Regions from separate parts of the Homo sapiens genome. Here region 2 is linked to region 1. Evidence: fine-mapped expression QTL. Tissue or cell type: breast. Region 1 holds a variant in brackets; the other region holds the start of a gene. All regions are shown on one strand. Distances are from middle to middle.

The links. PIP is the estimated chance that this variant, and not a neighbour inherited with it, causes the effect.
Region 2: MXRA7 starts here. The variant in region 1 is fine-mapped to the expression of MXRA7 in breast (GTEx, PIP above 0.99). The same link has a PIP of 0.9 or more in whole blood.

The regions. Positions count from the first base shown.
Region 1 is chr17:76,684,142-76,686,895 of GRCh38, reverse strand. MXRA7 (matrix remodeling associated 7) reads left to right here. Exons shown (of 4, transcript NM_198530.4): 3 at 1,731-1,824. Among named protein-coding and RNA genes, the nearest start is that of MXRA7, 25 kb to the left of the region's middle. RefSeq lists enhancers at 1-300, 2,283-2,754. The variant T/C (reference allele first, on the strand shown) is at 1,543.
Region 2 is chr17:76,709,619-76,712,372 of GRCh38, reverse strand. MXRA7 (matrix remodeling associated 7) reads left to right here and starts at 1,408. Exons shown (of 4, transcript NM_198530.4): 1 at 1,408-1,768. The coding sequence starts at 1,427. RefSeq lists a silencer at 1,177-1,386.

The DNA of each region.
Region 1 (2,754 bases):
CGCCTCCTGCCATCTTAGCCTCCTGCCATCTCTAGCAAGGCAGGGAAAGGAAAGGTTTATGGCTCCAGCTGTTGGAAGAATGTGTGAGCACCTCCAGCCCCTCTGCAGTACGAGGCAGCCTCAGAGGTTAATTATTAGTGTCGCTAAAATGACTTCCCTGAGCGACTAGGTGAATTCACAGGAGACTGGAGGAAGAAACCTCCCCCGTCCCTCGGAGGCTGTCACGTTGAATTCTGGTCTAGCAAAACTGGATGCGCTGCCTGGTGCACTGCATGTGACTGAGCGAAATCCTTTTCAAGTCGTTTGTTCTGTCTGGCTCAGAAAACAAAACTAATCAGACTTGCCCCATAAATTGAAACCTAAGACTGGGACCAAGGCAGGATTTTGTATGTTTTCTTTTTTTGGGGGGTAGGGGGATACTGGAATCTTACTCTATTGCCCAGGCTGGAGTACAGTGGCGCGATCTCGGCTCACTGCAACCTCTGCCTCCCGGGTTCAAGCGATTCTCCTGCCTCAGCCTCCTGAGTAGCTGGGATTACAGGCGCCTGCCACCACGCCCGGCTAATTTTTTGTATTTTTAGTAGAGACGGGGTTTTGCCACATTGGCCAGGTTGGTCTCGAACTCCTGGCCTCAAGTGATCCACCTGCCTTGGCCTCCCAAGGTGCTGGGATTACAGGCATGAGCCACCACACCCAACCAGATGTTTGGGTTCTGAATTCGCATCTAGAACCTTCTTCCTTTCACCCTGAGAGCCCCCCCGCCTCCCCATCGGTCCACATCAGCCTATCCGGTAGCATGAAGGCTGCAAGCTAGAGGGGAGGGGCCTGGCTTTTCGGGCTGCTGGACAGGATATGGAGGGACAGAGAGGGCAGCACTTCCAGAATAGCAGCTGAGGATCTCTCTATGCCTCCCTCACTGGGTCCTTTAGTTAGTGGAGGTCGATAAGAGGCCAGCCAGCTCTGCCCGACACCTGCTGGATTCAGGAACCAAGAGGTTGCTCCCCCATGGGGCTTTTCCCTCTGGAAGCTCAGCTTTTCTCTCCTCACCGTGGCTCATGTGCCCGGAGCCTGTGTCCACTCCAGGCCACAGGTCCTGGCTTCCTCTGTGCCCACCACCTACCCATCCATGTGCCCTCTTCAGGCCTCGAGATCTGTCCGTTTTTTGCAGGCAGCAATGGGGGGTCTCCCCTCGGGGACTGGCAAATCGGGCTCTGCCTCTTCAGCGGTACACACGTCAAACCTGCTGCAGCAAATCCCGCATCCCTGGCCTGGCCACTGTGGGCTGCCTGGATGCGTGTTTTCAGATTTCCAATAGCCACAGGGGGTGGGGGGATGACACAAGCCTCCCCAAGCCCAGGCAGGCGTGGTGTGTGTCCCAAGATGAGCTGTGCTCTGCTTGCCGGAGTTGTCGCCTCTGAGCTCAGTAGCCGAGAGGACCTGCTGGGCAGGGCCAGGGCAAGGCAGAGCACTGCAGATGTTGGGAGGGATGTGGCATCTGGAGACAGCTGTGGACTAGGAGTAGGACTGCTTTCTCTCTGGCTG[T/C]CTCGTTGTAGGATTTAAGGGAAAGCTATGGAACGAGAGGGGGTATAGGCGCTGGGGTGAGATGTCTCTGATAGCCAGATGTGGCCTCTGCTTGAGGTGTTTCTTTTTAAACCTAGGGAAAGGGGGCCGGGGTTTGTGGGGCCAGCCTCTACAGCACTCCTGGCACTTACTGGGTCCCCCCTCCACAGGAGAAGGCTTCTCCTTCAAATACAGCCCCGGGAAGCTGAGGGGAAACCAGTACAAGAAGATGATGACCAAAGAGGAGCTGGAGGAGGAGCAGAGGTAGGCTGCAGCCCCTTCGCTGGCGCCTGGCGGGCTCTTGGGGGAGGGGGGTGCCCCTCTGAGCCCTTCATGTTCCTGCCCCTTGGCAGAAGGGCCCAGAAAGGAGGTGGGGCTCCTACACGCTCTGCCCAACCACCGCCCCACCTTCCCAGTTTAGGAGTTCTTTCCTGCCCTGGTCAGCCAGGCTCGCACACCCCTGGCACCCCTCCCTGGCACTGACCAGAAGGAGGCCACTGGTGATGGGGGATACAGAGCCCATTTACTGCACCCCCCCACCCCCTCCACACCCCACTGCCCCCATCTAAAGAAATGAGATGCCAGGAAAGAGCCTGGAGCAGACCTGGCTGTCACTCACACACACAGTCCCCAACAGAGCTGATTTCTCCATTTCTCCTTCGGGACACAGCGGATTCTTGGTGCTCATCCTTCAGCGGCCTCCCAGGCCGGCGCCTGCAGCAGCGCCTTGTAGCTCCGGGCAGTGCAGCTATGGCTTCTCGTTGTTGGAATTGGCTCCCCCTTCCCATTTGGACACCCCCTGCACAGCCACTGGGCACCCCGCCACCTTTTCCCTCCACACCATCCTGCTGGGCGGGGAAGGGGTGCGCTGGGCACAGTGGGACAGCTGGGGAGGTCTCAGCAGAGGGACAGTCCTTTGCACCAGGCGCAGCAGGCTCCTGGTGCTCACCCACACTGCTGCCCTTCTGCAGCGTGGCCTGGAGTCCTTTGGTTAAAGCAGAAGTCTAGGTGGTAGCTGTGCCATTTTCCAAGCCTGGCGACCCAGAGCAGCTTGTGGGAATCACCCCCTACTTGTCAGCAGAAACCAGCGGTCTAGGGTCCGAGCAGGAGGGGTGGTTTATGATTTTGGAATCAGAACTCAACTGCCCTCTCATGGCTGCATGCCAAGCCACCCGCCGGGCAGCCCTCTAACCT
Region 2 (2,754 bases), 25 kb before region 1:
AAACCCTGTCTACTAAAAACAGAAAAAAATTAGCCGGGCATGGTGGTGGGCGCCTGTAATCCCAGCTACTCAGGAGGCTGAGGTGGGAGTTTCGCTTGAACCCGGGAGGTGGAGGTTGCAGTGAGCCGCGATTGCGCCACTGCACTCCAGCCTGGGCAACAGAATAAGACTCCATCTCAAAAGAAAAAAAATAGGCCCATACACTGGCTGAAACTTCCACAGTGGTTAAAAGCTAGTCGCCCGTAGATAAAGCCTATTTCACATTTTATAGTTTATAGGCTCTTTTCATCAACCACCACTAAAAGGAAGTGCATGGCCCGCTTAATATCGTGCAGTGCAGCAGAATTCAGCTCTCCCTGTTGCTGAGGGGTCTCGTTTGTGTATCTTCATTTAAAAAGAAGCACTCCATCTAATATCTGGTTTATATCACAGATCAGCTCAGGCACTGTAATATTCCCAAAAAAGTATTAAAGGCATCCTCAGCAAAAACTGGAACCGTGTTTTTTTTAACATTAGGCCTTATGTTTGGCGTGATACCTGACATGCCCGTCCTGTGTTTATTTAAAATAACTAAAGAGTGGGTGGGGAGTGGTAGGAAAGTATGTTTTTGGTTACAACGTGTTTATCTCAAAATCCACTGTTCAGCAACAGAGGCCTGGGAGGATCTGGAGAAACAAAAACAATAGCCTTCATTTCCTTCATTGTACCCTCCCACCCTGCATGCATTCTGGAATTGTGCAAAGAAGAAAGTCTGGTAAGAGGAATAGCGTTGACCAAGGACCTGCAGCTGAATTTCAGGTCTAGGGGCGGGGGAGCCATGTTACTGTTAACAGGGAGGCCTGTGTTGAAGGCTGCTGGCCTCAGCTCCGAAGGGAGCATTCACTGGCCGGGATCTGGAGATGTCCTCTGTGAAAGTGCATTAAGGCAACCCTGAGGATTAAAAGCAACTCCTGACATGCCTATAAAAACGGCAGTGGCTGAACGTAATCCGGCATTATGATTGCTTTACAAGCCAATCCAGGCTGCCGTTTCCATGAAGCTTCCCGGGTTTGCTTGTCTCTCTGCATTCCCACATTTCCAAAATGCTCTAAGACGAACCGCCGTACTAAGGCCAAAGATGACAACCTAAGGGCACCTCATACAGTATTTCAAATTGAACCTGAGCTAAATTGTGCCCCAAAGCGTCAAGGCTGCCCAGGCCGGGCAGGGGTTGGCCCTCCTGTGCCTCCCAGGTGGTCAGGGCTCTGCCCCCTCAACACCCCCGCCCGCAGCCTGTGCGTCACCCTCCCGGGGCCGGAGGGGGCGGGGGCGGGGCGCGGCGATGGGGGCTCCGCCCCGAGGCGGGGCGCGGCGACCGGGCGCGGCGACGGGGCGCGGCGGGCTCCCTCGGGGTCCCAGCTGGCCCGCACTCGGCGGCCGCGGCGCGATGGAGGCGCCGGCCGAGCTACTGGCCGCGCTGCCTGCGCTGGCCACCGCGCTGGCCCTTCTGCTCGCCTGGCTACTGGTGCGGCGTGGGGCGGCCGCGAGCCCGGAGCCTGCCCGCGCGCCCCCGGAACCCGCGCCCCCGGCCGAGGCCACCGGGGCCCCGGCGCCGTCCCGCCCCTGCGCCCCCGAGCCGGCGGCCTCGCCCGCGGGGCCGGAGGAGCCTGGAGAGCCCGCGGGGCTGGGGGAGCTCGGGGAGCCTGCGGGACCGGGGGAGCCCGAAGGGCCAGGGGATCCCGCGGCGGCGCCAGCGGAGGCGGAGGAGCAGGCGGTGGAGGCGAGGCAGGTACGCACCGGGGCCCTCGCGGCCCCCTCCCCACCCCCGGGGCTCCGGCTGCCGCTGCCGTTCCCCGCCGAGCCAGGGAGCGGGGCCGCGGCCTCCAGCCCAGGCTGCCCCCAGGAAGCGCAGAACCCGCGGCCCGCAGGAAATGCAGGTCCCGCCATGCTAAGCCGCAGCCCCGCAAACTCGCCGCCCTCCCCCAGAAAGTGTGGCGAGGGGCGAGCCCGAAGGAGTTTGTTTGGAGGTGTTTTGCTCTCCCCTCCCCTCGGCCTCTCCCAGCCCAGGGCGTGCTCCGCAGCTGCTGGCTCCCAGGCCTCGGGACCAGGGCTTGGAATTTTGCTCCTCACCCACTTCTGACCCCTCCCGCCCACCGGTTCCCAAATCCACGTGCCTGTGGCTTATTTCCAGGCCTGCCATGAGAGTTATCTTGATGTTTAAAAAGTAGGACTTTCGGGGGGCGAGGGAGGAAAGCTGGCTTTTCTTTTTCAGCCAATTTGAAGTCCAGATTTCAGAGTCAGTGCTGTGGCGTTTTGTGAAGCCCGTGGGCTGGGACTGAAAGAAAAGGCACCCGATCCCAGCAGTCCTTTTTATTGTCGTTTTCAAGCTACACATCTAACACCCTCCTACCCCCACTCCCCCGGGTTGTAGGTAAGCTGGGCCTGGATGGAGTGAAGATGCAGGATAAAGCCCTCCTGGAGCACCAGTGAGCACCCCAAAGCGGCCCTCCCTGCCTCTGCCCCAGGCCTCCCGCCATGCTGTCCATCAGCTCGGCCTTGGCCACCTTGTCCTGCCTGTGGATATCTGAGAGGAGTCGGATTTCCCTCATCCACTCATCCCAGCCCCTACACTGTGTGCCCATGTTCCCTGGAGTTCACCACGCTTGGCCGGTCCAGGCCACCGCCAGGGTCTCCGAGTCGGATTGTAATCCCTTGTTCTTACCCCTGAGCTCCTTTTCTTGGAAGGGAGGAGAGCCGGGATGCGCATTGTCAGCG